Regions from separate parts of the Homo sapiens genome. Here region 1 is linked to region 2. The links come from fine-mapping of genetic effects on gene expression. A gene starts in region 2. The other region holds a variant in brackets. All regions are shown on one strand. Distances are from middle to middle.

Evidence for each region. PIP is the estimated chance that this variant, and not a neighbour inherited with it, causes the effect. A credible set is the group of variants that fine-mapping cannot tell apart.
Region 1: its variant is the best candidate, but not a certain one, in a credible set for the expression of LINC03086 in unexposed skin (GTEx, PIP 0.60).

The regions. Positions count from the first base shown.
Region 1 is chr20:2,232,598-2,238,088 of GRCh38, reverse strand. LOC124904860 (a long non-coding RNA gene) reads right to left here. Exons shown (of 2, transcript XR_007067501.1): 2 at 1,435-1,669. Among named protein-coding and RNA genes, the nearest start is that of LINC03086, 28 kb to the right of the region's middle. The variant T/A (reference allele first, on the strand shown) is at 2,449.
Region 2 is chr20:2,204,008-2,209,255 of GRCh38, reverse strand. It overlaps LINC03086 (long intergenic non-protein coding RNA 3086), which reads right to left and starts at 2,328. Exons shown (of 2, transcript NR_161305.1): 1 at 1,737-2,328. RefSeq lists enhancers at 1,935-2,054, 1,737-2,237.

The DNA.
Region 1 (5,491 bases), 29 kb before region 2:
ATTGCTGGAGCCCAGAAGGACGAGGCTACAATGAGTCGTGATTGTGCCACTACACACCAGCCTGGGTGACAGAATGAGACCACTGTCTCAAGAGGAAGGGAGGGAGGGAGGGAGAGAGGGGGGAAAGAAGGAAGGAAGGAAGGAAGGAAGGAAAGAAAGAAAGAAAGAAAGAAAGAAAGAAAGAAAGAAAGAAAGAAAGAAAGAAAGAAAGAAAGAAAGAGGAGTGAGCACATGGAAAGAACCTGGTTCCTGGATGGAATCATTCCTGAGCTGCCACCCCAGCCCTAGACTGCCTGTCCCCACACTTCTTGTTGCATGAAATAAAAGAATCCCTCTTTGGTTCAGCCAAATAGCAGCACTTCTCTTATATGCAGCTGAACACAATTGTGAATGGCTCATGGGCCTTGAAAAAGTCTTGGGATTTCAACAAACAGAGGCAGAAGACAGTGTCAGGAAACGCTCAAGACAGGGAAAGCTGGGGGCATGTTCTTGACAAAGCAGGCGGAGCAGATAGGGAGGTCAGAAGAGACGTTGTGATAGGGACAGAAGACCAGGGAGGCTCAGAGGATGGATGTGGATTTCATTCTGAAAGCAGGGAAGAATTGCTGGGGGAAGTGAGCAGTGCTGTTCTTGGGGAGTTGACGCTAGTTCCTTGGCACCGAGTGAGCCTTGGGCCCCCGGATGAGCAGGCAGGGCAGCTACTGAGGAGCCTGGAGTGAGAGTGGGTGGCCTATTTCATTCCAATCTGCTGTGCTTGTATTACATTCCTGTTAGCTTAGTATCTGCACAGAACACCAGGGACCGCAGTACCGCAAACTCTTTGGCATTCTGAAGGCCCTGCTCTCGCTGTGTCACTTTCCTCCCACTGGCAATTACCAGACTGGCAAACCGCAGCCAGCCGAACCTCGCCCTCTGGCTTCCAAAGCGTGCCCTGCTTTGACTGCAGCATGTTGTAAGCCACAAACATCTTCGCCAAGAAATGATTAGAGAAGGAAGCTATGAGAAAACAAATGTGTATAAAAATAAGACATGGTCTTGAGTCATTGATAGGAAAATGGAAGCGGAAAAGATATCCAACCCAGAATGGCCTTCAACAAGTTCAGGGACCCACAGGCAGCTACAAGGAAGGAAGTGTTCCCTGGTTTCGTCTTTTTGTGTGAACGGATTCTCTGATTTTGATACTTGAGCCTCAGAGGCAGGTGATGCAATGGGAAAATACAATATTGTTCCCAGTCTGCCCCTGACTACCTGTTTGAGCTCACAAAACAAAACAAAACACCTACCACTCTCTAGACTTTAATCTCCCCACCTACCCACCTTGACACTGAGAGGATTGGACCAGAGAAATCAAAGCCTCATCCTCCTCAAAAACGTTCCGGCCCCCATCTCCCTGCGCAGCCAGCAGTGTCCCGGCTCTCTGCCCATCTAACATACCAGGCCTCATGTTGCATGTGTTTGACTCTGTCCCGAGTCCCCAGCTAGTTCCTCGAGGACAAGAATCCTGTTTTCCCCGCAGTCAGTACACATAGCAGAAACTCAATACATCTTGACTGAATGGATTCGTGGGCTGCACAGTTGTTTCTTGATAAAGGTTTCAGGACGGAAGCGGAGATGCTGTCAGGGCAGGAAATGGCACGTCAGTGACACTCCCAGGCTCTAGGCAAATCAGCTGGAAGAGAGAATGGAGCTAAGTTCGTGCAATTTATCAACAACTATATTCCATAGAATTAACCCACCAGATGTTTTCACCTTCCGCGAAAAAAAAAAAAAAAAAAAGCGCTCTGGTCAAAAAAGATTAAGAAATTTACTAACCGAATCCCACGTTCCACTCATTCCTCTATGGACATGAGCCTAGAAAAGGCTCTAAGATATCTGTTTACTTTTATGTAACCTAGAATTTCCCAAACCTAGGGAACCTGTGTTCGGAAAATGCCCATAAACTGCATGAACGCAGTTTGAGAAGCACTGGTTTAGTGTGAATGGTTTCTACAGTGAAGTTTTTATTTACAAACCATGTTGGGGTCTGTGAAAAGCCCCTTTAGGGCCAAAAATCACTGGTCACTGCATAATCAAATAGACAGACAGATATAATAATTCAGATTATTATTATAATAATTATGTTATTATTATAATTATTATCTCATTCAGTTAACACCTATTCAACAGCAACTGATTGTCTAGTATGCATCCCACACAAGGGATATGAGGATAAATAAGACAGGGTCCTCTCTGCAAAAGAGCACGTCCCTAAAGGGGAGGAGAAAGTACAGAATATTGTGCTGAGTACTGTAAGCAGATGTTATGGGAAGGCAGAAGAAGGTACCTGGGAGAATCATGGAAACTAGACCTTGAGTAATAAAAATAATAACATTAACAACAATACCTTCATCAAGTGCTAACCACGTACCAAACACTGTTCTAAGCACTTTACGTATATTAACCCACTTA[T/A]ACCTCATAACAGTCTTACCAGTTACTTTCAGTACCTACATTTTACAATGAGATCATTGAGTCTCAGAGAGGCTAAGTAACTTGCCCGAGATCACACAGCTAGAAATATGACATGGTCAGGATTCAAACCCAGGCAGTCTGGCTCCAAAGTCCATACTTTTCAGCAGTAGGCTGTACTTACTGCCTTTTGGGATGAGTAGTAAGTATACCAGATGGAAAAGGACAGAAACCTTCCAGGCAAAGGGAATAGGAAAAATAGCAAGTAGTTCTACGTGCATCAAACGTGGACTCTCAAATCTATGCCAGTAGGCTCTGGCTGTATCCTGTGGACTTGGGTGCTCAGATCTTTCCACTGATGTCCTTCAGGCAAGAAAGGAAAACATGAGCCTTTAGGGGAATCTGGAAGTGTAGCTTGAAAAAACCTCCACAAATTTCTTTTGAAGTCTCCCACCACCATCTGAAAAATGCATGAGAATTCTATATTTGACACCATAATAGAATTGTGTTGACTCCATATAAAACATTTTAACCACTTAGCAGTTCAATTAACATTTTTACATAGAACTCCAGGAACACATGCCATTATTTCTCTTGAGGCCTCGGGTATCCCTGGCAACCTGCTTGCATCCATGACTCCCCAGCTGGAGGCCTAGCTGTAAACAGCAGGAAGTCATTTAAGATGCCTGAGCCAGGGACGGACCCAGCACATTTGCGTTTTCAAAAGGTGACTCTTCAGAATAGCAGGAACCTAGGAATAACTTAAATATCCATCAAGAGAAACTGGTTAAATAAATACGTTCATCCACTGGAATACTACAGTGCTCTAACAGAATGAGAGACCAGCATTTACAGATGAGAAAAGCTCTCTAAGGTAACATAGTCAATGAAAAGAGCCGAGTGCAGACCAGTGTGTACAGTGGATTCCCACTTGTGTGTGAGGTGTGGAAAGCATGTATGTTTTAAGGATATGCTTTTACAGGCAGAGAAAACTTGTAGAAGGAGAGACAACAAATGTCAACAGTAAGGATCTCTGGGGAAGGGAACCACGAGAGAACTTACATTTTTTGTTGTTTTTGAGACGGAGTCTCACTTTGCTACCCAGGCTGGAGTGCAGTGTAGCGATCTGGTCTCATAGAACCTCTCGGGTTCAAGTGATTCTCGTGCCTCAGCCTCCTGAGTAACTTGGACTACAGGCACCCACCACCACACTCAGCTAATTTTTGTATTTTTAGTAGAGATGGAGTTTTGTCATGTTGACCAGGCTAGTCTCAAACTCCTGATGTCAGGTGATCCGCCCCCCTTAGCCCCCCGAAGTGCTGTGATTACAGGCGTGAGCCACCACTCCCAGCTGAGAACTTACTTTTTATTGCATATCTTTCAGTACTGTTTGGATTTCTACCATGTGCATTTATTACTTTTTAAATAAAAGAAACAGTTTGGCCGGGCGCAGTGGCTCACGCCTGTAATCCCAGCACTTTGGGAGGCCGAGGCAGGCAGATCACCTGAGATCAGGAGTTCAAGGCCAGCCTGGCCAACGTGGTGAAATCCCATCTCTACTAAAAAAAATAATAATAATAATACGAAAATTAGCCGAGCGTGGTGCCACGCACCTGTAATCCCAGCTACTCGGGAGGCTGAGGCAGGAGAATCGCTTGAACCCAGGTGGCAGAGGTTGCAGTGAGCTGAGATCACGCCATTGCACTCTAGCCTGGGCAGCAAGAGTGAAACTCCGTCTAAAAAAAATAAATAAATAGTTTAGTGAATCTCAGAAAGTTAAAAAGTAGTTTTTAAGAAAAAGGAAAACTGAGAAAAAAACTGCTAGCTTTACAGCATAGATGATGAGTGGGGAAAAAAGAGTGATTCTAGTTGTCCCTTGGTATGTGCAGAGAGCGGGTGAAGGGAGGAATTGGTTCCAGGACCCCTATGGGTATCAAAATCCATGGATGCTCAAGTCCCTTGTATAAAATGGCATGGGATTTGCATACAATCTACACACAGCCTCTCCTGCATTTTAAATCATCTCTAGTTCACATATAATTCTTAATACAATGTAAACTATGTAAATAGTTGCTATACTATATTTTTAAAATTTGTATAATTTTTAATTGTATTGTTATTTAATTTTCTTTTTTAAAAAATACTTTTATATTAAAAATAATTTTTTATCTTAACCCAACATAGATATATTGTTATTTTTGAATGTGTTTTATTTTTCAAAGATTTTTGATCCAAAATTGGTTGAATCTGTGGGTGTGGTGTGGAACTTGCAGATACAGAGACCAATTATATAGAGAAAGACCCATTACTGGCAGGGCAAGTTAGCTCACATCTGTAATCCCAGCACTTTGGGAGGCCGAGGCAGGCGGATCACCTGAGGTCAGAGGTTCGAGACCAGCCTGGGTGACATGGTGAAAACCCGTCTCTATTAAAAATACAAAAAATTAGCCGGGCGTGGTGGCAGGTACCTGTAATCCCAGCTACTTGGTAGGCTGAGGCAGGAGAATCTCTTGAACCCTGCAGGCAGAGGTTGCAGTGAGCCGTAATCGCACCATTGCACTCCAGCCTGGGCAACAAGAACAAAACTCCTCTCCAAAAAAAAAAAAAAAAAAAGAGAAAGGCCTATTACAAAGCCACTGTCCTACAGCAAGATGACAAAATTGAACCAAGGAAGTGGCAGTAGGGCTAAGGAAGAAAACCGAGAGATATTTAAGCAGTAAAAACTCTAGGACTCGGCAACTCGTTAAGTTGCGGGGGGTATAACAGAGGTAGACGTTAAGAATAAATTCGGCAATAGGAGAGACGGGGGAGCTGTTCACTAGGAACATGTGTGCAAAAGAAACAGCCAGAATGTGGGGAGGATAATGAGTTCAGTGTTGGACATGCTAGGTTTGAAGTATCTTAGGACATTCAGATAGAGGTGACCTATTAGAAAAGTGAGTGTAAGGTTTTTGATCGTAAACAATTCCATTTACCTTATTGATGGCAATTTACTAAGTTCTAACAATGAAGAATGAAATGAGATTACCTTTCTGTGTAGTAAAGC
Region 2 (5,248 bases):
CCCCCGTACATCTTGACATTTCTACTTATTAGAAATTAAAGTATAAATTAAGAAGCTTACTCTCCCTTCTCAGAATCCCATAGCTTCTCATCTGTAACTTCCTCAAAGCACCTGCCACCTTCTCCTACTACCCTGGAGAGTTGCTGACAGATGCTAATTTAGTTTTACTAAATATATTACCTTACCGGAAAGGCTAAACATGCATAATAGATAATACCAGCTACCCTTTGTTGAAAGAGGCTTACAGATGGATGAGGAAACAGTGACCTGCCCAAGTAGCATTATCAAGACCAAAATCCACCTGACTCACAGCCCAGTGGTCTTTTAAGGACACGATCCTGCCTCTTCTACAGAACCATGTAAGACGCTGAAAAACTTTGGGAAATAAAAGGAGAAATGCAGGCAAATGTTTCTGTAATCCAGCCAGAGACTAAGAGTCCTTGTAGCAGGACAAGTGCAATCCTTTCCAACCTCACAAGGCAAACAGACGATAATAGTTGTCAAAAGACAAAAATTACAAGAAATTTAGTTTAAAATCTTAATTGGCTTATATTTGCATTCTAGAATCAGCCGATGCCTCGTTCTATAAAACAGAATGAGTGCTCTGATGAGCTGAGCTGAGGAGGCTGGCTTTATAGACAGAAAAGGGCTGAAGAAAGCAGAAACACAGAACAAAAAGCGAATTGGTTGTTTCAAAGTTATTTTCCTTGTAAAGGTTAAAGCAGAGAGGACTTCCTCATCATGCCAGCTAAAGCTGGTTTACTTGGGCATTTGGCTATATTAACTGTCTCTCTCTCCTAATTTCTAGGAAAGTCAAATAAGCAACTTAGTTTCAGCTTGGTGGCACGGAACTTCAGCATAAGTGACTCCATGTTGGGTTGATCTGTTGGGCATAGTGCAGGAGCTCAGTCCAAACCAATAGCCTCTTATAAATTTTATTTAACATAGTGATAACAACAATATGACCATGGTAATAATAGAGGCAGCTTACTATGTGCCTGGCACCATTCTAGGGACTTCACAATCTTTTTTTTAATGTCCTAAGTTCTTGAAGGCAAGGGGCTTTACAAATATTAACTACTGTAATTATTATAACGGTATTAAGTGGGTACTATTATTATCCCCACTTTTTAATGAGGCAAGGTTGAGAGGTCAACTAACTTGCCCCAGGCAAGCCCATGAGCACTTCCCACGTGCTAGAAACTAAGTCCAGAAATTGTACTAAGTACGATTAACTCGTTTAATACTCAAAGCAATCCCAAGATACCTGCTATCATTATCAGCACTTTCAGAGGGAACCAACAGAGCTCAAGGCAGCCTGAACCCGGAGCCCGCGCTTAGCCACCAGCTGCGTGGCTGCGGGCAGGGCGAGCTGACCCAGGCTGGGTGCGCGTGGGGCGGGGGCTGGGTAGAGATCTGTTCGCTCGAGTCCTCAGCAAGGGCCGCACTGGACGTCAGCTCTGAGTGTGACCAAGGCCCCCGGCTTCTCCAGATCTGGACGCCCCAGCCCGGGAGCTCCGTGCCAGCGAGCCTCTGAGCATCGCGGGCCGCTACTGCCCCCTGCCGCCGCCCGGGCCTTGCAGGGAGAGCTTGCCCGGAGCAGAGGCGCACGGCCACCGGGCCCCGGCAGCTCCCAGCCACGACCACCCAGAGACCCCGCAGAGGAAGCGGAAGCCGCCGCCCGGCACTTTCTGAATTCCCCTCTCCGCCCTCAGGTCCCTGCGGCCTCCCGTCACCTGCGTCACTTCTCGTGGGCTGGCGGATAGAGCCCGGCGGCTCCCCCACCCACTCGGCTCGCAGCCCACGCTCCCGACGCCCGAGTTGCCATGGTGAAGGACGCGGGAGAAACGCCGGAAGGGGCACGGACCCCAGGGAGAGCGCGGAGGCGGCCACGCGGGTCCTTCCTCCACCTGGGCCCAGGCACTTCCGGTCTCGTAGGCGTCGGGGAAAGCTCTTTGCGGACTTCGCTGCGGGCTTAGGACCTCCGACATGAAGGGAAGCGGGGGCTGGAGGACGCAGAGACTCTCCCTGGGCTGCTCGAAGGCCAAGGCTGTAACGCGGCTCCGGTCCTCGTTTTCCCGCCGTCGGTGCTGGCTGCCTGCAGTTGCCATGGTGACGCGGGCCGCGGGGCAGGGCAAGGTCCCAAGTCGCGTGCAGTTGCTCCTCGCCGTCGCCACTCTCCTGCCCCAGGCTGTGGGTAGCAGACGTCAAAAGAGATACACCAGAGCGCGACCCGGACTCAGGACCGCCCGGGTGGGGGCTGCTTCGGGCATTGGACACACTTCCCGGGCGCCTCGTGACCGCACACTCCTGGCCTCACACCTCGGGGTGGGTTTGCACGAGGGGGGGCCGAGCCCTGTCGCTGAGCGACACTGACCTTCTTAAGGCCACCTAGCTTTGGGTACAATGGATGTCTCATACTGAATTTTAATCAGCTTCTTACTGGAGGACATTAATGTTTGTTCAATCTTCGTTACTACAAAAAATACTAGAGTGGAGTGGTAATATCCTTGTATGTACGTGCACACGTGCAACTTTCTCTGTAAATTTCCAGAAGTAAAATTTCTATGTCAAAGGCCACATGCAATTTTAATTTTCATGAATATGACTAAATTGCTCTTCAAAGACACTAGCAAATTTACATCTCCACCAAAACTGGAGTCCGATAATTTTAATTAGGATTATATCAACAGCGATGAACTGTTGCAAAAGAATTTTCCAGAGCATTTTCCATTAAACCAATTCTTTGATCAGTTTTTTTTAATACAACATAGTTAAATAGTATCCATATCCATTTTTATTTTATGGAAATTGTCTTTACTGAGTGATTCTTTTACATATAAATTTCATGATAAAGATTTTACTTCTTTAAAATTTGTATGTCGAATTTTACTTTGGTTTCCATCATTGTGATATTTTGTATTTCATGCTTATTTTATTGAAAAAGAAAAAAAAAAGGGAACCCCGACATTCAGAAGCTAGCCTGGCATCACAGGTCCACCATGTTATCCTCCTATTGTACGTAGCGTCACAAAATAACAACCTCAGATATGGTTACAGAGAGCCTGATAAAGTGAGACATAGCAAATCTACTTTGAAATTTTGTCTAAGCACAGACAAAAACACAGTCACTGTGCCACTCACAAAATACCAAACACCCGTCTTGGAGAAAATGAGTGACTGCTACTTCTTTTTTTTTTCTCTCTCTTTTTTTTTTTTTTTTTTTTTGAGTCAGAGTCTCGCTCTGTCGCCCAGGCTGGAGTGCAGTGGCAGGATCTCGGCTCACTGCAAGCTCCGCCTCCCAGGTTCATGCCATTCTCCTGCCTCAGACTCCCAAGTAGCTGGGACTACAGGAGCCCGCCACCACGCCCAGCTAATTTTTTGTATTTTTAGTAGAGATGGGGTTTCACTGTGTTAGCCAGGATGGTCTCGATTTCCTGACCTCGTGATCTGCCTGCCTCAGCCTCCCAAAGTGCTGGGATTACAGGCGTGAGCCACCGTGCCCGGCCCCCTGCTAACTAATTACAGTTTTATCTTTCTTCTAGTTTGCCTTCTCTATAGATTAGATTTATTGAGATACCCAATCATGGAATTGGCTCCTGCTTCCTGACCACTTCCAATCTAGGGCGAATCCAACTTCCATAGGCCCTCCTTAAATTACCCATAAAAGCTCAAATCCAGTAATAGGTTCTTTATAACACCTCTTTTCGAAGATACCCCCCCATAGTTCTGTCATGGTATGTACTCTCCCTCAGTGCAACCCAACTTGTTCAACTATAGGTGTGTCCTGGTGGTCTTTGGCTAAAAGGCATTGACACTAGCAAGTTCTATTTTCTTTTCTTTCTGAGACACGGTCTCACCCTCTTGCCCAAGCTGGAGTGCAGTGGCGCCATCAGGGCTCACTGCAGCGTCAACCTTCAGGCTCAAGCAATCTTCCCACCTCAGCCTCCCAACTAGCTGGGACTACTGGCATGCACCACCACGCCTGGTTGATTTTCATTTTTGGAGACAGGCTTTCACTATGTTGCCCAGGCTGGTCTCGAACTCCTGGGCTCAAGGGATCTGCCTGCCTTGGCCTCCCAAAGTGCTGGGATTACAGGCATGAGCCACCATGCCCAGCCGCCATAGTTCCATTTCCTTTGGCAAAATTTTGTGGGTCCAAAAATCTGTCAATGGCAGTCCTCTACAAATGTTTAGTAAGGAGCAAATTTTACGTGGGCAGTCTGTTTTAGTTTGCATTGATTATTTCAACCAGATCTGATTTCCTTTGCTTCTTGTAATTTCCAGTGTTACCTTTAAGATGTGAGTCTTCTGAGTTCATAACAAATTTCACAGGTGCCATCTTAACCATTGTCAGTTTTATTTTGTATGATTTATAGACAAATCATACAAAATAAATGACTACCGGTGATAGTCATTATGAATCAGACAGAAGGTTGATAATTTTTTCATCTGCTTCTTGACTCAAGAACCTTCAGTAGGGCAGTGATGTAGGACCTGGATACGCAGCAAAGTAAAAATGATCTGCTTCAACCGGCAGGCTTGCTGTGTGCGCCATGCCCTTTACCAGGCACTGGGAACACAGGTCCTGCCATGAAAGTAATTCACAGTCTAATCAGAGCGATATAGGAGCTGGCTGGCCTCAACGTGCCAGATGGATGAGAATGAAAAGGGCCTTCCAAATGGAGGAAACAGCCAAATGCAACGAGTTTATTTATTCATTAAATATTTATCGAGTACTTACTTTGTGCCAGGAATTGGGCTGAGCATTGGGGATGCAGGAATGAGCATCTTCCATGTGGCCCCTGCTCTCCAGAAGCTCTTGGTCTGGTGGGGGAGATGCATATGAAACAATCGCTCCAGTGACTGCAATGTGTAATAACCACTGCAGAGAAAATCCAGAATTCTGTGGGAGCCTGGGACAATGGTAACCTGACAAGTGGGGGTCAAGGAGAGCTTCACTGAGAAACTCACTTTTAATCTGTGTGAAGGATGAGACAGACAAAGAGGAGGTTGTTCTTGGCAGAGGACACAATTCATGCCCTGAAGTGGGAAAAGACTTGACCTTTCTCATGGGATGAAAGCAAGCCAGTGTGGCTGGAATGAAGTGGGTTGGAGGAGGCTGTTGGAGTATGAATGAGGTGGACCGATATCTGATCCTGCAAGGGCTTGTCCACCATCCTAAGTTGTTTGCGTCTTAATTCAAAAGCAAGAAGTCAGGGAAGAGTATCAAGATAAGGGGTGGGGT